Homo sapiens: one gene and its partners. The protein of the gene in region 4 purifies or fractionates together with the protein of the main gene of each other region. This does not show direct contact. Each region holds a gene or a part of one and is shown on either strand. Other genes may lie near its edges.

The links.
Region 1: the proteins of MPP1 (region 4) and METTL3 purify together in Homo sapiens (affinity purification with mass spectrometry; one large-scale study listed by BioGRID and IntAct). This does not show direct contact.
Region 2: the proteins of MPP1 (region 4) and AGFG1 purify together in Homo sapiens (affinity purification with mass spectrometry; one large-scale study listed by BioGRID and IntAct). This does not show direct contact.
Region 3: the proteins of MPP1 (region 4) and SARNP purify together in Homo sapiens (affinity purification with mass spectrometry; one large-scale study listed by BioGRID and IntAct). This does not show direct contact.

What each region holds. Positions count from the first base shown.
Region 1 is NC_000014.9:21,500,765-21,506,010, reverse strand, and holds part of METTL3 (N(6)-adenosine-methyltransferase catalytic subunit METTL3), read left to right. Parts: intron 1-2,129; coding exon 2,130-2,347; intron 2,348-2,433; coding exon 2,434-2,838; intron 2,839-4,107; coding exon 4,108-4,283; coding exon of another isoform or gene 4,284-4,302; exon of another isoform or gene 4,303-4,303; intron 4,304-4,881; coding exon 4,882-5,098; intron 5,099-5,246. UniProt on the Homo sapiens protein: The METTL3-METTL14 heterodimer forms a N6-methyltransferase complex that methylates adenosine residues at the N(6) position of some RNAs and regulates various processes such as the circadian clock, differentiation of embryonic and hematopoietic stem cells, cortical neurogenesis, response to DNA damage, differentiation of T-cells and primary miRNA processing.
Region 2 is NC_000002.12:227,529,986-227,535,231, reverse strand, and holds part of AGFG1 (arf-GAP domain and FG repeat-containing protein 1), read right to left. Parts: intron 4,142-5,246; coding exon 4,022-4,141; intron 3,095-4,021; coding exon of another isoform or gene 3,023-3,094; intron 1,684-3,022; coding exon 1,474-1,683; intron 388-1,473; coding exon 207-387; intron 1-206. UniProt on the Homo sapiens protein: Required for vesicle docking or fusion during acrosome biogenesis. May play a role in RNA trafficking or localization.
Region 3 is NC_000012.12:55,800,149-55,805,394, reverse strand, and holds part of SARNP (SAP domain-containing ribonucleoprotein), read left to right. Parts: intron 1-1,666; coding exon 1,667-1,766; intron 1,767-4,494; coding exon 4,495-4,541; intron 4,542-4,765; coding exon 4,766-4,833; intron 4,834-5,246. UniProt on the Homo sapiens protein: Binds both single-stranded and double-stranded DNA with higher affinity for the single-stranded form. Specifically binds to scaffold/matrix attachment region DNA. Also binds single-stranded RNA. Enhances RNA unwinding activity of DDX39A.
Region 4 is NC_000023.11:154,780,857-154,786,102, forward strand, and holds part of MPP1 (55 kDa erythrocyte membrane protein), read right to left. Parts: intron 4,302-5,246; coding exon 4,195-4,301; intron 3,253-4,194; coding exon 3,172-3,252; intron 2,652-3,171; coding exon 2,571-2,651; intron 947-2,570; coding exon 744-946; intron 458-743; coding exon 383-457; intron 1-382. UniProt on the Homo sapiens protein: Essential regulator of neutrophil polarity. Regulates neutrophil polarization by regulating AKT1 phosphorylation through a mechanism that is independent of PIK3CG activity.

The DNA.
Region 1 (5,246 bases), on a different chromosome or scaffold from region 4:
TAGTAAATATGTGAAGTGCTCCAGTATATTTCTTGAGATTGAAGATGTGCATATAGATGTTGACACGTTTAAGGATTCAGCAAATTTGTAATCAGACCATATTAATTTCAGTGGTTCTCTTAATTAAAGGGTGAATCAAGTGTTATGTATTATTTTGCTAAACCGAACACATTATTTTCGTTAGATTAGAAGCAGAATGTCAGTGTAGTTGCAGCAGAGCGGAGGCATTGAGTAAATGTGTTGAATAAATAAATGAATAAATACCTTATGAAGGATTTGGAACCCAGGGATTCTTATCATTTTCTGGACAGTAACCGGTTTTAGGGATGATAAAACTTTTCCCCAAATGTCTGTATACATACAAAACTTTGCACGTGAAAAGTTTAGGGAATTTCACCTGAATAACAATTGTATTAACCAGCAGTTAAGTTTTATCCACCACATTAAACATAAGCTCCCTCCTCCTGATAACCTTAAAAAAGGTATTTTCAGCTCTAATATTCTGAATGTAATGTTGGGGAAAAAAAACCTCCCAGGAGGTGTTATTAATACAAGGATTCATAACCAGAATTACATCACCAGATATTGGAATGAGCAGTATTAAATCAGTCAGATTACCAATGAGAAAAGTCAATACCAACTTGTAAGGACTGAAATATTTATGTTAACATGGTTCTTTTTATAGATTTCTCACTTAAAAATTTTCTCACTCACTTAATTACTCAAAGAACATCTTCAGTTACTAACTGGAGAAACTGAAAATGAAAGAAGAAATGGGTGAGAGTGGAATCCTCCCACCTCAGCCTCCCCAGCAGCTGGGACTACAGGCACAGGCCACCTTGTGTGGCTAATTTTTAAAAAAATTTTCTTTAGAGACACTGGGTTTCACCATGTTCCCCTGGCTGGTCTGGAACTCCTGGGCTCAAGTGATCCTCCCACCTTGGCCTCTCACAGTGCTGGGATTACAGAGATAAGGCACCACACCAAGCCCTGAGTCAGATTTTAATAAATTCAGTTTCCATTAGAGTGGAAAATTTTCAAATTAATGAATTATTTATTTATATATTTTTTGAGACAGAGTCTTGCTCTGTCGCCCAGTCTGGAGTGCAGTGGCATGATGTTGGCTCACTGCAGCCTCTGCCTCGTGGGTTCAAGCAATTCTCCTCCTTCAGCCTCCCCAGTAGCTGGGATTATAACCTTGCATCACCACCCCCAGCTAAATTTTTTTTTTTTTTGTATTTTAGTAGAGATGGGGTTTCACCATGTTGGCCAGGCTGGTCTCGAACTCCTCACCTCAAGTGATCCACCCACCTTGGCCTCCCAGAGTGCTGGGATTACAGGCGTGAGCCCCAGTGCCTTACCAGAATGGAAATATTTAAGTAAACAAAATATTTCTAAATGTAAACTAATGGCCTACTTATTTAGCAATTTCAGTTCAGTTCTTAGGAGTTTAATATTTCATCTATATTTTAATTAACCACAGATATTAGGCTTTCTCAAAGATAACATTTTGTCCTAATTTTAGTTTCTCAAATCGTTATTAAGGTTATGATGGCAACCCAGCTTGTGAAGTAATAGATGATAATAATATAGTCAGGAAATATCATTTGGTAACCAAGGCTTCAGCAAAGTATTAAGATTTTTGTGTTTGTGAGTGTTATAGGTAACACTGTTGGCCCCCAACATTGTCATTTTGTACACTTTGTTGATCAGTGGCCTGAATTCATTAAAATTCACACTACATGCCTCAAAAAGAATATTGGATCCCAGCCTAGGTTGTTGAGTATATTCCTGTCCTTTATTAAAATGTAGGTTGATAGAAAGGTGGTAGGGATATTTAAATCTATCATGCTAATTTACTTTCTTTGTATCACAGCAAGGATAGGGAATTAGGAAAAGATTACTCACTCAATAGAGAAAAGGTAGATAGAAAATCCAGTATTATCTTGACAAAGCAGTGAATGTTTTAGTATGATTGAGGATAGGTAATCTAGTGCTAAAGTTGGTCACAGAATTTCCTGCACAAAATGAAAGATCTGTGTATGGGAATGCTAGAGAATTTGACTTCTCAGAAATATATAGACCAACAGTGGTTGCCTTTTTTCATTTTCACTTCTCTTCATTCTTAGATCTACGGAATCCAGAGGCAGCATTGTCTCCAACCTTCCGTAGTGACAGCCCAGTGCCTACTGCACCCACCTCTGGTGGCCCTAAGCCCAGCACAGCTTCAGCAGTTCCTGAATTAGCTACAGATCCTGAGTTAGAGAAGAAGTTGCTACACCACCTCTCTGATCTGGCCTTAACATTGCCCACTGATGCTGTGTCCATCTGTCTTGCCATCTCCACGGTAATGACCTGACAGAGTTAGGATTTACCACTTATTTTCAGTTCACGGTCAGTGTCTTATTGCCCATACCTCCCCTCGTTCTCTAGCCAGATGCTCCTGCCACTCAAGATGGGGTAGAAAGCCTCCTGCAGAAGTTTGCAGCTCAGGAGTTGATTGAGGTAAAGCGAGGTCTCCTACAAGATGATGCACATCCTACTCTTGTAACCTATGCTGACCATTCCAAGCTCTCTGCCATGATGGGTGCTGTGGCAGAAAAGAAGGGCCCTGGGGAGGTAGCAGGGACTGTCACAGGGCAGAAGCGGCGTGCAGAACAGGACTCGACTACAGTAGCTGCCTTTGCCAGTTCGTTAGTCTCTGGTCTGAACTCTTCAGCATCGGAACCAGCAAAGGAGCCAGCCAAGAAATCAAGGAAACATGCTGCCTCAGATGTTGATCTGGAGATAGAGAGCCTTCTGAACCAACAGTCCACTAAGGAACAACAGAGCAAGAAGGTAGGGGTCATGTGAAAATACTCTCACAATATGCTCTTAATTATAGCTTTGTTTGACAGGGATTTACCCCTAGGGCAAGGAACTGTTTACAGCAGTGGTTCTCAACTGGGGATGATTCCCTACTGCCCAACTCCCAGGGGATCTGGTAATGTCCGGAGACATTTTTATTGTCACACATGGGGGAGTGCTATTGGCATCTAGTGGGGGTAGAGGCCAGGGATGTTGTCAAACATCCTACAGTGCATAGTGGGACAAACCCCCACAACAAACAGTTGTCTGTCCCAAAGTGTCAACAATGCCAATGTCGACAAATTCTTATTTAGATAATCTGTCACTGAATCTGAAAGAATTGGATCAAGAGAAGAGGAATCCAAATATATAGAAATATAGGGAGATGAATGGAGAGGAATACTAGACCAATTATGGAAATTGACTAAATAATGTGAATTGGTTCTGAGTATAAGCATTGGCCTGACATGAGTTCTTATCTGTTTGGTACTTCTAGTGCGTGAGTTTGAACAAGTTAATTAACTTCTCTTGAGCCTTAGTCTTCTCATCTGTAACATGAAGATAATACCAGCGTATCCTGCCTTATAGAATTGAATAGACTCTGAGCTAAAAAGTAAAGTGTTTAGCACTATACTTTTTAGTTCAGCACCCAGTAAATATGTTTTTTGTAGAAGGAATGCCTTCCTGGGGAGGGGATGTTAACATAATGCTTAGCGGTAGGAACCAGGCCTCTTCCATTTTAATTTCATCCCAAATGCATATTTGTGAGGAAGGACTGAACCCCTAACAAATCTCTTATCTGAAGGCTCCAATTTTCCAATATTAAGTTAGCTAATTTAGGTCTAGGCACAATGGCTCATTCCTGTAATCTCAACACTTTGGGAGGCCAAGGCGCGAGGATCACCTGAGGCGAGGAGTTCAAGACCGGCCTGGGCAACATAGACCCTATCCCTATAGAAAGTAAAGTAATTAAAACATTAGCTGGCATGGTGTCACGCACCTATATTCCCAGCTACAATTGAAGGCTGAGCTGGGAGGATCACTTGAGCCTGGGAGTTCAGTGGGAGAAACAGTGAGTTATGATTACACAACTACACTCTGGCCTGGGTGACAGCAAGATCCCATCTCTTAAAAAAAAAAAAAAAAAAAAAGTTGATTTATCTCTTAGAAGACATTAATGTCAAAAAGAATTTGCGGAGTTGGTCTAAGAGCCAATTTGATCTATAAGACATTTTAAGTCCAAGGCTACTTCTGTCACAGGTCAGTCAGGAGATCCTAGAGCTATTAAATACTACAACAGCCAAGGAACAATCCATTGTTGAAAAATTTCGCTCTCGAGGTCGGGCCCAAGTGCAAGAATTCTGTGACTATGGAACCAAGGAGGAGTGCATGAAAGCCAGTGATGCTGATCGACCCTGTCGCAAGCTGCACTTCAGGTCTCTTGGAAGGGAATGAGGTGGGATGGGTTTGTCAGAAGCAGCCATTCCTTTTCAGCATATTCCTTCCAGTCATTGGGGTTCTGTCTGTAATCTTATTTAGTTTATGGTTTGTGTAAGTCCTCCAGACCCTGAAGGTGTACTTTCAGAAGTGCATTGTGTGGGAAGAATACAGGCTGTACTCCCAAATAACTGAGATTTTTTTTTTAAAAGCTCCCTCCCTCTTAGAATAGCAAAGTATGTCTGTCTCTGAGCCACAGTGAAAGTTAAAGTACTCTGAAAGGAGGATAATCTTAGGAGAAAAGGAACCTAAACTCTTAGGTCAGTGTTTTATTCTGTTCTACCCAAGTCTCCTGCACTGCTTGCCTTCCAGTGGTAAAACAGGAAACCAAGTCTTTACTCAGAGAGGAATTACAATTGTTCTGTAGTATGAATTATGGATTTCCATGCTACCTGCCTCCCTTAAAACTCTTGAAGGAAGCTCTAATGATAGAATTAGGGGAGGGTAATAAAATAGACATTTTGAAATCATTTGGAATTTGAACTGTTGGATCTACATCTGGAGCACCATCTTGATTCTCCCTTTTTATTTTCCCAGACGAATTATCAATAAACACACTGATGAGTCTTTAGGTGACTGCTCTTTCCTTAATACATGTTTCCACATGGATACCTGCAAGTATGTTCACTATGAAATTGATGCTTGCATGGATTCTGAGGCCCCTGGCAGCAAAGACCACACGCCAAGCCAGGAGCTTGCTCTTACACAGAGTGTCGGAGGTGATTCCAGTGCAGACCGACTCTTCCCACCTCAGGTACCTGTCTGCTCAGAAAACTCGTCTCAACTTACGGACTTATGTTTGATAGGGCAGCCATACACGTTAAGAAAGCAGAGCATAATTCAGCAATCTTGTCTTGCTTATTGGGAATGGAGGGGGATAGATAAGCTTTTAAGGGAATAGG
Region 2 (5,246 bases), on a different chromosome or scaffold from region 4:
AACGTCTGATTCAATGAAAAGATAAAATTATGGCAATTATTCAAGGATTATATTTTAATTAGCATTTAAATTCAAATTCCTCAAATTTACAAAAATATCCAAGAATTTTAAAATTATACCTTGAAACAGTCATTTTTTAATTGATTATTCAAAGTTGGAAAAAAAAGATAAAACACAAAGCAGGAGGGCTAGCTAAGACAAGGTACCTGCTAGCATTACTTGTGGAAGTATACGCATTACTGGAGGTGGCTGCAGAACTGAAAACGCTGTCTAGTTCTGCCAGAGCTGCATACTTGTCTGAAGATGCACTTGACTGACTGGGAACTGAAACCACAGAACCAACAGGAGCTTTACCTGTGGTCCCAAAGCCACTTCCCTGATCACCACCTGGGAACGAACAAAATCAAGTTACACCAAAAATTTAAAGTTACACTTTCAACTTATCAACCACATTTGCCATGAAACACAGGTAAACTTAAAATGGATTTAGAGTTAAGCAGGATTCCAAATCATTAATCTAATAAATAACCTGGACCATACTGGACAGGATTAGTTGTTATACATACCACTGTGATAAAGACAGAATATGTCTCTTAACAAAAATTAACACTCTGTACCAAAAAAATTTGTCTGGATTATGCATAAGAAAGAAACTCTCAAGTGCTCTTACGTTAACATCTCCAAGACGGGTGGATCTTGTTCACATGAACATATAAATTCATATAATGCTAGACCTAATGTGAACAGTCTATCAATAGCATCATTTCCCCAGCATTCTCCACAAAAAAATTAGAGATGGTAATAACGGGAAACATTTATTGAGGACTTACTATGTGCTAGGCACTGTTCTATATGCCTTAACATGCAATAATACTTAGAACACAACTCCATGAGTTTAATGCTTAGAATTATCCTCATTTTGGAGAGGAGGAAAACAGGCCCAGAGATCAGAATGGAGAATTCCATTTAGCAACACACACCTGCTATTCACCAGTGCCACATGCATTTGTAGAGGCTACTAGCCTTAAGATAAAACTGGATACAAGACTATACTGTAAAATTCATGAATTTTTTTTTTTAAATATAAAAAACCCACCAAGATGTTAACGGAAAATTGTTCGAAGTAAATATATTACAGAAACCACCAAATAATCCTCCATTCAGCTCTGCCAATGGGGTTTCTTGGCTCTTTATAGCCAAAGAAAAGTAAAGCACGCCTTCTAGGACAAAATAAAATTTTTCTCAACTAGTAAGACTGAAAGTTTACAAATCAGTCCCTATGTCTTCAGTTTTGTAGTTGATATTTCAGGTCTAAAATGTGTCAAGTGAACATTTTACTCAAAATGACAGTGCAGACAAAATTTCTATACAACAACTGAGAAAAGTGTAGCATGTTCAGATTTTAATAAATACAACCAAATTAAGAGCACTGTTTAACACAAATTTGTATTTGTTTTGCTTAAAGCTTGATACCTTGCCCGGCACTGAAGATATTGTCTAAATTAGCAAGTGCTGCATATTTGTCTGCAGTCTGTAAACCAGCTTTGTTCGTTGAAACTTTACTAACAGCTGATGCTGTTTGATGACTCTGGGAAGTATTGAAGGTTCCAAAATCAGCACTGGAGGATTTGGGGAAGTTATCAAAATGAGCAAAATTAGCATTTACTGATGCAGCACTTCCACCTGTAACAGAATAAACAGAGCACTTGAAATTTCTAAGCTTTTCCTAGTACCCTCTCATAGACTGTATGATCATTTCTTCCTAAATTAAATGTCCTATAAGCAATCTTACAACATTAAAATCAATGACTGGCAATGGCTTTTGACTACAAGTGACGTTTTCCAATTTTGTAAAAGTAGATTTTTCAAAGGCCTTGGCAACAGGTAAAGTAACATGTTTCTGTGTATTACCTACCCTGGAATGAAGAATGTAATTCATGGAGGGGTATCTCCACACTACCTGGTTTGAGATTCAGTTACTTTCTAGTCCAAATATACTACAGCCTTTCACTAGTTCTCCCTGAACAGACTGCAAACAAGATGCAAAGTATCTTACTAGGAGGATTTCAAACTTTTGTGGCTCCATGACGAAACAGTTTAAACAATCCCAGGGGTAGCGATTAACAATGTGTAAAATGTGTTACGGTGATCCAAAATTCCTTAAAAGATGGTCGTTGACATTTATACTTACTTCACTTGAAGAGCTACTATTTAATTCCACATAATAGTTTAATGTGTATACAATATCAAGATGTCCACTGTAAAATCATGCCGTACCATATAGTTCAAGGCATTAAAATTACAGTACATAATACATTATAGCAATTTTTGACTTTATAAACCACAATTCACCTAATGGCCACTATTATATATATCCTGTTACATCTTTAAAATCTGTTCTCTATTATAGAGACCTCCTTAAAGTACTATCAAAAGACTAAAACCAGTATATTTCATTCTATGCTTTTGATCCTACATTTTTGGGATATTAGTTCTTTATTTCTAAACTTTAGTTTCAGAAATCAAAACAGTATATATACACAGTTATATATTAAAGTGATAGAAAAGACAACTACAGATAATTTTAAAACAGAATGCATGAACTTCTATTAAAAAAACACGAACACTTTCTATCAAGCAGGTTTTTATACATTCTAAAAAAAATATACACTGATCAAATTTCTTTCAAGAGTTAAATCATGGTGGTTTCAATTAAAGGTAAGTAATATATGTTTGTATGTAAAATATTGTGACCTGTTACAAGGAGCTGGCAAACAAAGTACATACTAAACTTTCAAAATTTATATAAAGAATATTATTTCAAATTATTATTAAACCAAGTAACTCTTTGATTGTCTACTATTGTGTTCTCTAACTCTGAGTTTAATAAATAGAGTTGGAAGAGATTTTTATGAAGGATTATCACTAAAGAATTATTAACAATCTATAACTGGAAAAACCCTTGAAGTATAGCAAAAATATACAAATTAGTATAAGATGCCTACTTGACAACAGAACTTACTGTGGGTAGCCTGAAGAGGAAAAGCTGAAGTAAATTCACCAAAACTGCAGCTAGATGAAAGCATTCTAAATGCTGGACAGCCAGAAATTATGTAAATGATGAAAGTTAAAGAAAAAACAAAAAAGAAAATTGAAAGAAAAGGCTTTAAGACAATACACAGAGTTAAAAGTTGAAAGAAAAGTAATCAGCCAAAAATCTAAATAAGGGTTCCATGAGTTTACGAAAACAGCACAATTTATGGAAAGAGTATTCAATGTTTAAACACCAATTCCTGCACAGAAAACTATTTCCAAGTTTGACTGAAGTGATCATTAATCTACTCTTGTCTAATAAACATATAAAAATTTTTCTCAGGCTTGTTGCCCCGAAAATTACTTACATTTTTAGCTCTACAGAAGCAACCAGCTTCCTTTATTAAGAGGTATAATGTCAGCCTAAATCAATGGATTCTATGAACCTTAAAAAACTTATAGTACTGGCTGGGCACAGTGGCTCACACCTGTAATCCCAGCACTGTGGGAGGTCAAGGCAGGAGGATAACTTGAGGCCAGGAGTTCAAGACCAGCCTGGGCAACATAGTGAGACCCAGCTGCTACCAAAAAAAAAAAAAAAATTTAGCTGGGAGTGGTGGCATGTGCCTGTATTCCATCCTGAGGCAGGAGGATTGCCAAAAAAAAAAAAAAAGAGACAGAGAGAGAGAAATACTTATAGTAGTGTCATGCCTCTGTCCTGTGTGCATGGTAGATATAAGGAAGATTCATGCGCAGGAAAAGGAGGAGAATGGATGTTGTCAAACAGACAATATACCAAATAATGCAGAAAAACAAATGAACATAGAAAAAAATAAAGAGTTCAGGTTTCCCCAGAGCTTTTGAAGATAGAACCATTTTAAAGTCAGATAATTACAGAATTTAAGTTTAGACTAATTTTTCAAAACTACATTTAGAGAGTTTTGTTTTGTAAAGTAAACATTTAAGCACAATGCTGGAGAAGCTCTACCTGTAGTTTGGGGCTGAAAAGGAGAGTGACTTGCTGTGGGGAAACCTCCAAAATTACTCGAACCACTAGACTGTCCAAATGCATCAAAGTTTGCAAAATCTGCATTTGCAGAATTCTGAGCTGTAAATGGTAAGGAACAACATATGTTAATGAATATGAAAACTATAAATGAAAATACATGACACATGAGTTTAAGAATTATATGAAAAGTTTCTATGTATCAAAACTCACTTTATAGAGAATTCACTTAGCAATCAGATTTTAAACCCTACCAGCATGTAACCCAATTACAGGTAATTTACTAAGGAGTAACCAAGAATTTCCAAAAACACTTTGTGCAATGATAAATTTGGACACAATACTCTGTATATGACCTCAAGCACAGTACTATAAAAGTGACTCTATTAACAAAGGAAACTATTTCAGAGTACTGAGTTACAGTACTGAGTTATAGGAAAGCAGACAAAGATGTAGAAAACATCCTGGAAAAATTCACTGATTAAAAATGGTAATCAACTATGTGAATCTGAATAATAACTGAAATACTTAAAATAATAATACAAAAATGGTTTAATTAATAGAGCTTTTTTTAAGTTTACAAATGTCTCACCATGGTCATATATAAAAATTTAAAAAAAGGACAAGATCACCAAATAAATTGAAGATATTCATATTCTATTAGAAGCCTGCAATTTTAAACTCATTAAAATTTAAGAAACAATGAATGCTAGCATAGAAATTATAGCATATAATTCAGAGCCCCAAACATTAATAGAATACCTATTAAATAGGCAAGACAGGACTTTGTAGTACTTGTATCCATTTTTACTTCTAGGTACTGATCTATTCACTATCTTCAACAATCGATTATAAGTGCTGCAGAATGAAACTTTGGAAAACACAACTTTGCAAATTCAACACTAATAAATTCAGTAATACAAAAATTACTGTCTGGACACTCAGGCAATCTCTGTACAAAGAAATCCAAGCTAAGCAGAATGTAACACAATGGTAAAGCTGTTTCTTGAATAATCGTATTTCAAAAAGTACAAAGGAGTCAACTTAGTGTGGAACTTAAGACCCCAAATTAATGAGCCTGAGTCTTGCTAATAGTTGTCATTCCTCTTCAAAGAAAAACACATATTCATGAGACAGGAAGATAGATCATAGGACGCAAACTAGCAGCCCTCAGCAAATTCATCTGACAGATATGCTTTGTTTCATC
Region 3 (5,246 bases), on a different chromosome or scaffold from region 4:
TTCCTCAGTAGAGGTTGCTTTCAGCTTGTTGGGTTGGGCAGTTCTGTTCATAGCATCCCTGCCTGCCCGCCCCACTCACTAAATGCTTTGCTAGTCGTTGTAATATGTTTTATTTATTTTATTTATTTATTTTTGAGACGGAGTCTCGCACTTTCGCCCAGGCTGGAGTGTAGTGGTCGATCTCAGCTCGCTGCAAGTTCCGCCTCCAGGGTTCACGCCATTCTTCTGCCTCAGCCTCCCGAGTAGCTGGGACTACAGGCGCCTGCCACCACGCCTGGCTAATTTTTGTATTTTTAGTAGAGACGGGGTTTCACTGTGTTAGCCAGGATGGTCTCGATCTTCTAACCTTGTGATCCACTCGCCTCGGCCTCCCAAAGTGCTGGGATTACAGGCGTGAGCCACCGCGCCCGGCCATTGTGATATGTTTTAAAAAACTCTCCACTTTTCATTATGAAATGTTCTCCTAGCTGAAAAACGTAGAGATGCAGAGCATCCTCCATAGTTGTAAAATTTTTTGTCTATAGGAGTCTGCCTTCTAGCTTCTACTGATTGGTCATAGATCTGTACTCCAAAACAAAAAAGGTCATCTTTCAGACCAAAGATCTATCTGTGTGTTGATCTGCATATAGAATTTCTGGAGCCTTTCTTTCCTGCTTGTTCTCCTGGGTCAGCATGTCGTTGTGCTTCGTAAAATAAGAGTATAGAGCCCAGTAAGGCCATTACATCGTTTATTATGGAGTCTATATTTCAGTTACCTATGACTTATAGGTAGCAAATCATACTGTTAACCTTCTTTGCCTAAAATTCTGATGTCTTTATCCTTTGAGTTACTATTGAGCCAATCCTCCCTTACCCAGTTTTTATATAACTGAAGTTTTGAATCTAAGTGTAGGAAGTTATATGTATACCTTATTCCTACTAAATTGAGTCTTTGTTTTGGCTTATTATTAGTCCTGAAGAAGTGTTTTTTTTTTTTTCTGTTTCCGTGTTGCATTTTTTAAGCTTAGTTATGTCAATAATCCATCAATTCTCCTTCCTCCTATTGTCTGTAAAATTGATGAACATAGCTTTTATATCTTTAGATAAGTTAAATCTTCAGCAGAACTCTATGGTATGCCATTAGATATTTCTTCCCATTTTGACACAGATCCTTTAATCAATTCATTGTTCACATTAGCTAATGCATCTACCTAATTCTATGGTGGTTAGACCTGTATGCATGTATATGGTAGATTGTAATAACGGATCTGGGATAATAAGTGGTAAGGAGAATCTGCTTTTAGATCATTGGATTTTCTACTTGAAGGTTCATTCTTCCAATATGCTGGCTGCCACAGTAGTCTTAAGAAAAAAACCTTTTTCCCCCCTCAGAATATTTAGAAATAACTAGAGATTTGTGACAGTTAGTAGGTATACAAATAGATGAGGTTTTTTATTAAAGTGTGATGTTTATTCTTCAGCATCTGTTAGGCAGTTCCTCTTGTATATTGAATATCGTTAGAGGAAAATGGATCATCTTTGTGGACCTAGAGCCTTGGTAGAATTAAGGGCAGTAATTTGGGATGGAACTTCATTTTCTTTTTTTCTTTTCCTTGTGGGAACTACCATTTTATTCACTGGTGTTCATCCTGTTAACTAAGGAAAAGTTTTATTTTTTTCCCCTCAGCTTGCCGAACTAAAGCAAGAATGTCTTGCTCGTGGTTTGGAGACCAAGGGAATAAAGCAAGATCTTATCCACAGACTCCAGGCATATCTTGAAGAACATGGTGAGTACTTTGTGGAGGCGGAGTGATGTGAGTGAGGGGATTTTCAGGCTTTGACACTGAAAAGATTTCTTTTTTTTTTTTCAGGTCATTAGCAATGTAAGCTCTTAATTAACGGCATCAAGAAAACTCTCTCTTTTTTTTTTTTGAGATGGAGTCTTGCTCTGTTGCCCAGGCTGGAGTGCAGTGACGCAGTTTCAGCTCATTGCAACCTCTGTCTCCCGGCTTCAACCAATTCTCCTGTCTCAGCCTCCCAAGCAGCTGGGACTACAGGCGAGCACCACCATGCCTGGCTGATTTTTGTATTTTTAGTAGAGACGGGGTTTCACCATATTGGTTGGGCTGGTCTAGAATTCCTGACCTCAGGTGAGCCACCCGCCTCAGCCTCCCAAAGTGCTGGGATTACAGTTGTGAGCCACCGCGCCCAGCCATCTTGTACAACCTACATCTTAGGTTGTACAAGTCCTCTATCTAATTTTTATTTACGTATTCCCTTTTATTTCTATTCCTCATTTCACTTTCTCCCCAACCCATTTAGGCACCCGTTCTAATGTGTTTGAATGTATTTTTTTGGTGTTTTTCCTGGTAAACTATGTAGTGTTGTTTTGTAGAATGTTTTCATTTATATAATTGGTAATTACATAACTGGCCATAGCCTTGCTTTATTTCTCATTTTTTTCACTAAGTATTGTGTTTTTTTTTTTTTAAAGATGCGTCCATGTGGAATGTGACTGTGTAGTTATCTAGTCTGTTGATTCTAATTCCTGCATAGCATTCAATGATGGATAACCACACATTTTACTTAATTCACTCGGTGACAGAAAATTTTATTGCCACCAAGCCTCTGCTACTATAAGTGATACTACTTATAGTATACTATATGTATATAATAGTATATAGTATATATTATACTATGGGTTGAGTGTTATATATTTGAAATGCTTGGGACTAGAAGTGTTTCAGATTTTAGTTTTTTCGGATTTTGGAATATTTGTGTATATATATAATGAGATATCTTGGGGGTGAGATCCAAGCCTAAACACAAAATTTATTTGTTTCTTATCCACATATCTGAAAGTAGTTTTATACAGTATTTAAAATAATTTTGTACATGAAACAAAGTTTTGACTGTGACCCATTGCATGAGGTTAGGTGTGGGGTTTTCCACTTGTATCATATCAGCCTTCAGAAAGTTTTAGATTTAGGAGCATTTTAGGTTTTGAATTTTCAGATTGGTGATGCTTAACCTGTAGGATATAGTATACTATATCCTATATACTAATAGTATATAGTATATTATTATGAACTACTTATTTTATGCTCTTATGTTCCTGTGAAAGTCTTTTTGGGGTATATGCCCAAGAATGGTATTGCTAATTAATATTCATAAATATATACTTAATGTGACTAAGGACTCCCAAATTATTTTCCAGAATTGCTCTGTAGATCTGCAGTCTCATTACTAGTACATAAGGGTTCTTGTATCTTCACAAACCTAAACTTGGCACTGTCCTATCAAGTGGCCTAAGTTTTGCTAATTTGTTGGCTGTTTTATGTTCTCCATGAAAAAAGTTTAAACATTTCACAATTCTTTGGGTTTCTTCTTTGCCCATTTTTCTGTTGAGGTTCCCATAATTTGCCTGTTGGCTTGCAGGCATTTCTTTTATATTCTAATAACTATTGTTTTGTTGATTTTAGGCACAAATATCTTCTTTGGCTGTGCGGGGTGGTTCATGCCTGTAACTCAGCACTTTGGGAGGCTAAGGTGGTATGATCTCTTGAGGCCCGGAGTTTGAGACCAGTCTGGGCAGCATAGTGAGATCCCATCTCTAAGAAAAATAATAAAATTAGCTGGGTGTGGTGATGTGCACCTGTAGTCCTACCTACTTGGGAGGCTAAGGCAGGAGGATCCCTTGAGCCCAGGAGGGGGAGGCTGCAGGGAGCTGTGATTGTGCCATTGCACTTTATCTGGGCGACAGAGTAAGACTCTGTCTCAACAAAAACAAATGTCTTGTCATTTGTCTTTTAAGTTTCTTTGTGCTATCCTTAAGTAGAAGTACTTAGTTTTGAAAAATCTTCAATTTTTCACCTCTTACTTTTGGTTCTGGGTTGTTTTTCTTTTAAACAAATCTTTCCCCACCACTAAATCTCAAAGATACTTTTCCACATACTTTTTTTGTTTGTTATTCAAGACTGGGTCTTGCTCTGTCACCCAGGCTGGAGTGCAGTGACATGATCTCAGCTCACTGCAGCCTCTGCCTTCTGGGTTCAAGTAATGTTCCCACTTCAGCCTCCCCAGTAGCTAAGACTATAGGCGCACACCCCCACACCCAGCTAATTTTTTTATGTTTTTTGTAAAGACGGGGTTTCGCTGTGTTCCCCAAGCTGGTCGCTTGAACTCCTAGGTTCAAACGATCCACCTGCCTCTGCCTCCCAGATTGCTGGGATTACAGAGAGCCACGGTGCCTGGCCCAACATTACTTTTAAAATTAATTCTCTAGTTTGACTTCACATTTAGTTCTTCAGTCCAACTGGAGTTCACATTTGTAATTAATGTTAGGTAGAAATCTGGTTTTATCTTCTCCAGATGTAGCAGATTTTATGTGCATCAGTTTCTGCCTTCACTGTTGGATTTTTTGGGGGAAAGCAAAGTGATTATAATTTTAACCTTGGTAAGTGATCAAGATGGTTTTGTAGCAGGGCTTGACCTGAATATTTTAATATTCTTTAGCTGAAGAGGAGGCAAATGAAGAAGATGTACTGGGAGATGAAACAGAGGTGAGTTGGATAGAGTAAGGTTAGTCTCTGGTAATGTGCCACTGCTTTGGCCACATTGCTTTAACATCAGTCATTGGAGGACTTAGATGTAAATTTATTAGGGGAGCATAAGATGGGTATGAAGGTTCTGAGAGACTGGTTTATTTTGGAGTTCTGATGTTCTTCTTTTGATAGATATTTATTCTTTAGATTTATGTTAACCACCTTGTTTCATTTGGTTTTAGGAAGAAGAAACAAAGCCCATTGAGCTCCCTGTCAAAGAGGAAGAACCCCCTGAAAAAACTGTTGATGTGTAATTATCCCTTTTTTATAATCTGAGTACAGAGCAGGCAGCTCTTTTCTTAATGTATTTAATGTTTAACTTTGTTTACCTCTTACATGTTCCCATTGGCCTTTTCCTTTCTGATTAGGTCATTTTTTTGTTTTTTAGAAGGGACTACTTCAAAGTACTTGGTCCCAGTGAAGTAAAGCAAATTGTCTCTGAGTTATGTAATAGGTAATGAGGACCAGGTGACTTCAAGACCAGACATAGTTTAATTCTCCTAGCCTTTGTTGTTCTTTTGTAGGGTCACCATAATAGATTATTCTGTTACTCTATAGAGAATCTGTACAATTCTGTATGCAGTGTAAAACTGTGTAAACTCTGTTAACTTTTTTTTTTTTGAGACAGGATCTCACTCTGTTGCCCAGACTGGAGTGCAGTGG
Region 4 (5,246 bases):
TGTCTTTCCCCACAGCCATACTGCACCCCAGGGCGGGTTCAGTGCCACCTCTGTCCATCACAGCTTCCCCTGCCAGAGCCTGCATCCCACCAGTATCAGGATCTGCTCAACTGTCCATCTCTGCCCCTGGAACTGTGTGCCTCCAGGACGATGACTGGGTCTGGTTTGTTTTGTCCCTGTTAGGTAGCATGGGCACTGGCCTAGCTAGTGGCTTAAGAGCTGGAACGAATGTGCATACCCTTTGGCTTCTTGGCCCTGGAGGAAGAAGCCCAGCTGGAGCTGTGACCTCCAGCCAGCACTCTGGCCAATGACCTGGACTGAGGTCCCAGTATGGGCAGGCCCGGAGAAAGTGAACTACCCATCGCGCACAACCTCTCCTCACCTGAGTGCCCTGGTCAGTAGGTGCAATGAACACAATGAAAGGCGAAAGTTCTGCTGTCCGAACAATTTTCAGGGTCTAGAAAAAAAAAAGAAGGGCGGCGGGGAGGGGGGGGAAGGAAGAAAAGGAAAGTGAAAAAAAAAAACCTACATAGCTGTCATAATGGATTCCTTCTAATAAGCAGCTTTGAGCTTTACCCCAATACAACTTTCCATCATTCCCAGTACTACTGTTCTTGTTCCAGGCTGACCCCATTAAAAGGCTGAAGCAATCCTGAGCCCCCAGAAGATTCCCAAGGAGCACTGTCTTCGCCATCCCTTGTGTGGCTGAGCCCATCTGTCCCTGCCCTTCCATGCCTACCCACCTGGGGCTCAATGTCAAGGATGGCAATCTTGTTCTGCTTATGGATCTGGTGCACTGTTTCAAATTTGGTGCCAAACATGTTGCCTTGGTAGCTGCCAAACTCCAAGAACTCATTGGCAGAGATGTTCCTCGTCATCTCCTCCGTTGAGATAAAGTGGTACTCCTTCCCATCTTCCTCACTCTTCCTTGGCGGCCGTGTTGTATCTGTGTACAAGAACCCAAATCCCCGACAAACTCCAGGTCCTCACCCTTTCATGAGGGCTTGGACCATGGTGTCTGTATGGAAACCCTAGCTGCCTTTGGTGCATTGACTTTAATACAGGGGTTCCTCCCGTGGGCTCCTGAAGAGCTGATGCTAGAAAGTGATGCACACCAGGAAATCCCTCCATCTGCCCAGGACACATTTAATTTTTAAGGGGCAAAGCCTAACATAGAAAATTCCTATTATCATTTTCCCTAAATGAAGTTACATCTCTCAAACTACCAAATCTAGGAATATTGAAACTTAGAAATGAAGATAGCGGAAAATATTTTAAAAACAGATCTACAGACTATGGTCAGGATTTCTTGGAAATATATTTAAGGTTTCCTTTTCATGACTTGGAAAGAAGAGTACTTTGGTTTAGTTTCAGCTCATGTTGTTAAAAGTTGGACTATTTTCTATTACTCATATAAATTGTCTAATCAGTAAAATATGCTCCAGATATTGTAGCTTGAAACACAATCCTCCCAACCTCCCCTCTTTCCATCTTCCATTGACTGTCTCCTTTGCCTTCCGGATCACACTTGTCTCTCAACTGGCCCCTTCCCCTCAATCTACAACCACATGTGATTCTCTTGAAGGAGGAGCCTGTACTGGTTATTTCTGCTTCCCCACTCACTCCTGGGGCCATCTCTTTCTGCTCCTAATGTGACACTGGAATAACTCTTATGTCCCTCCAGCAACGAGACAACTCTCAATGATCCATGTGTAAAAAAGCAAAATGAAGAAAGAATTAAAAAATAGTAATATGAGGTTTAGAATCTGGTTTTCTATTTTGCTTAGCAGTACAGTAATTCCTCACTTAATATTATTATCAGTAGGTTCTTAGAAAATGTGACTTTAAGTGAAATCACATGCAGCTGGTCGTTGACTAACATGGTTTAGTTCAACTTCATTTCATTGTATTGTTGATGAGTAAAAAAACTGGTTCTTGTTATATGTCATTTCACTTAAAGTCACAGTCTTCGAAGAGCCTATTGACAATATTAAGTGAGGAATCACCGTATTTCTTTCTGGGAACATACACAACTATACCATGCAGCATCACTTCTGGGAATGGAAGAGTTATCAAATTCTCCACCTGATCACTGGCGCTACTCTTCTCCATATCTAGGACTGCTGTTGAGATCGTTTGGGCCTTTCCTAGGCACTGCTTTGATTTAGAAGACATTCCATGAAAATGAGAGGCAGCCTGAACATCAAGAGTGGGATAGTTCTCAAAGAGAATTAGGCAAATTGCAGAGGAACATGAGAAAATGTTTAAAAAGTAAAATGACAAAGTTATATGTATAAACTTTAATACTTAGTAATTTTTAAGGCAGTATCAAAATGTTTACTATAGCTTCTGTTATGTAGACAAACAGCACGAATAACAATAAGAAAACAGTTATTCTGTTAGGTGGAGGAATTGTGGGCACAAATTTTTATCTTTCCATATTTTGTTTAGTTTTAATAATCATTTAAAATAAAATAATTTAAAAAATAATAAAATAACACTATGGTATTTCAGATGGCGAGTGGTACCAGCCTGTCACCTCCCCTCCAAGGTGCCTAAGAGCTACTTACATGGGACAGGGTACACAAACTTCTCCGGATTCTGGCTGAGCAGGGCATTCTTAATGTGGCTGCGACCCACCCCACTGGCTCCTGTGTAGAGAGAGAAGAACATCTTTTGGAAAGGGGGGAGAGGAGCGAGGATAAGATACGGATTTTCCTCTCTCGGCACTCAAAACTGCCAACAGGTGAACATGAGTTGGGGTTGCATCTGGGCTGGGGTCAACTCTAAAGACAGGAAGGTGAGCAGTCCGCCAGAGGCAAAGCCTACATACCTGGGTTTGAAGCAAGGACTTACTCTGTTTCAGGTCAGAGTCACTGCTTGGGGGAAGGGAGATTTACAAAGCGTATCACTGCCAGCAGACAGCATGAAACCTAACCAAAAATAATTCGTTGCTAAATAGTAGAGAAACTTGTAAGGTTTAGTTTCATTTGTGAGGTGGACCCAGGTGGGGTGCACGTGAGGATTCAGAAAATTCCTTACACCTGCTCTATATGGAGAACCCAAGAGACCTCAGTTCTTTTCTTCCTCACTGCCTTTTTTGGGGGTGGGCACGTGATGCAGGCAGGAAAACAAAGACAGAAATGTGCAAATGGGGCAATGAGAAGATACCGATCAGCACCAGGGTCTTCCTCTTGAATGCAGGGAGCCGAACGACTTCCTCGTAGGAAACAACATCCAACTGATCAAAAACTAGAGACAAAGAAAACCAAGCAGTGTTCATTTCCAGAGCTAGGGAGAACAGTGGTCCACACTCTGAAATGGGAAACAGCCTCGCGACATCTCAACAAGCAGGGAGGAAGTGACTAGAGATGAGACGAGGGAGGTTGGTGTGGAGGAAGGACTTTGGACTGTATTTTTAGTGTGGTGAGGGAATTTTGAGCAAGGGAGTTTATCTAACTTTTGCACCCTCTCTTCCTCCTTGCCCTATCTCTCTGAGCCAACTTTTCTTGTCTCCTGTCCTCATCTCTTCTCCATAGTTTCAGTATCAGATGTTCCCTTGGCACTTAGAGCTGAAGAATGCCAATGCTATCTCGGTTCTGCCTGAATGTCCCTTATCTTAGAAGATGGTGGTGCTATTGACCCAGCTGCTCAAGATAGAGACCTGGTGTCATCCTGACTCTCCACCCCCTTACCTGCCTACAACCCAAGACTGCCACGATCATTCCCTGGCTGGTGGTGTGCACGTGACGTCTCAGAAAAGAGAAATGCAGATGGAAAGCTGACCGTGCGAATTCTCTGCTCAAAACCCTTCACCAGCTCCACAGTCTATAGTGCAAAATTTAAAACGCTAGGGAGGGTGCACGAAGCTCCCTATGACCTGGCCCTGGCCTCTCCCTCTGGCCTGTGTTCTTGCCTCACTTCCCCTCTCCCACCACATCTACTTCTGTGTGAGGGGTGGGGTGATGAGCAGGTGTGGGCTCACCACTAGTCCTCCTTTACATCCACTGGCCTGACTGCAGCAAGCTTGTGAAGATGGATTCAATAAAAAGAAACCAGAAGAAATGACATGCTTTCTGTAGAATGCGCCTTCTGCTGCGCACTGCACCACCTCCCCTTTTCTGCTGGTTACAGAGACTGGGAAACACGTGAATGCTGCCAGGAACCTGGGGCAAGAAGGCTCAGAAAGCTTACTCGAGCTGTGCTTGGCCAGATATTTGTCTTTGTACTTCTTCTTCTTCCCAAAGGGACTGCAGCTCGGGGCTTCGCTAGGAGCTGACTGAGCCATACTTGCCACTCGCCTGGTAGGAAAAGACAATCAAGGGGTCAGCTTTCCTCCCCCTCCCCTCATACCCCCCCCAGCCACTCAGTCTCTAATGGCACCCCCTTCACTCTCTGAGTGTCCATTACAGTGGGAGATAATGTGTGCAAAGCACCCCATACACTGTTTGGTGCATCTTGCACTGTGCCCTGCCCTCAGTCAGGGACCTGGCTCCTTGAGTCTGTGTCATCTAGTACCTGTCAGCACATTCTGGACACAACCCACAAACAACTCTCTTTCTTTGGTCTAGACCATAAAGGTCTCAAACCTTTATGACCCTACCTCACTCTAAGAAATACACTGTACATTGCAAGCCATTATTGCACATACATCTATAAACAAAACACATACACACACCCCACATATATATCTAAAACAACTGCTTCACAAAACAATAACTTGTATTACTACATGTAATATATTCTAATATTTCTATTCAGTGTCAACCCCACAATGGTTGTAATCTTTACACTGGGGTAAGTTTGCACAGGCAGAGGGAGGCTCAGTGTTGGATGTCTTATCAGTTGGAACTGTTTTGTGAATTTTTCTGCCATTCCTATGATGTAACCAGGACTAAGTGAGCAATCTGACTCGGGGACAGGAATTATTTCTTCCATGTACCAGGAATGTGCCTAAAGGACACATACTTAAATGCGACTGTTTTCTGCAGGACTCCAAGGAAATCCCAGAAACAGCATGGCTGGTAGAAGCGCACTAGCTTGGGAAACAGGAGACCAGGGAGGGCTCAGTCCCAGCACTGTCACGTGCTTGGTAACTATGGGGAAAACGTTTAAGGAAGCAAGAGGCCCACATAAGAATGAAGAGCTATTTGGGCTCCCTTGCCTGTGGTTGCCTCTCAGTCCAGCTTATCAACGCATGGTTAACCCTCCCCCACCCATTATGCCAGGAAATCTAGGAGGTCTCC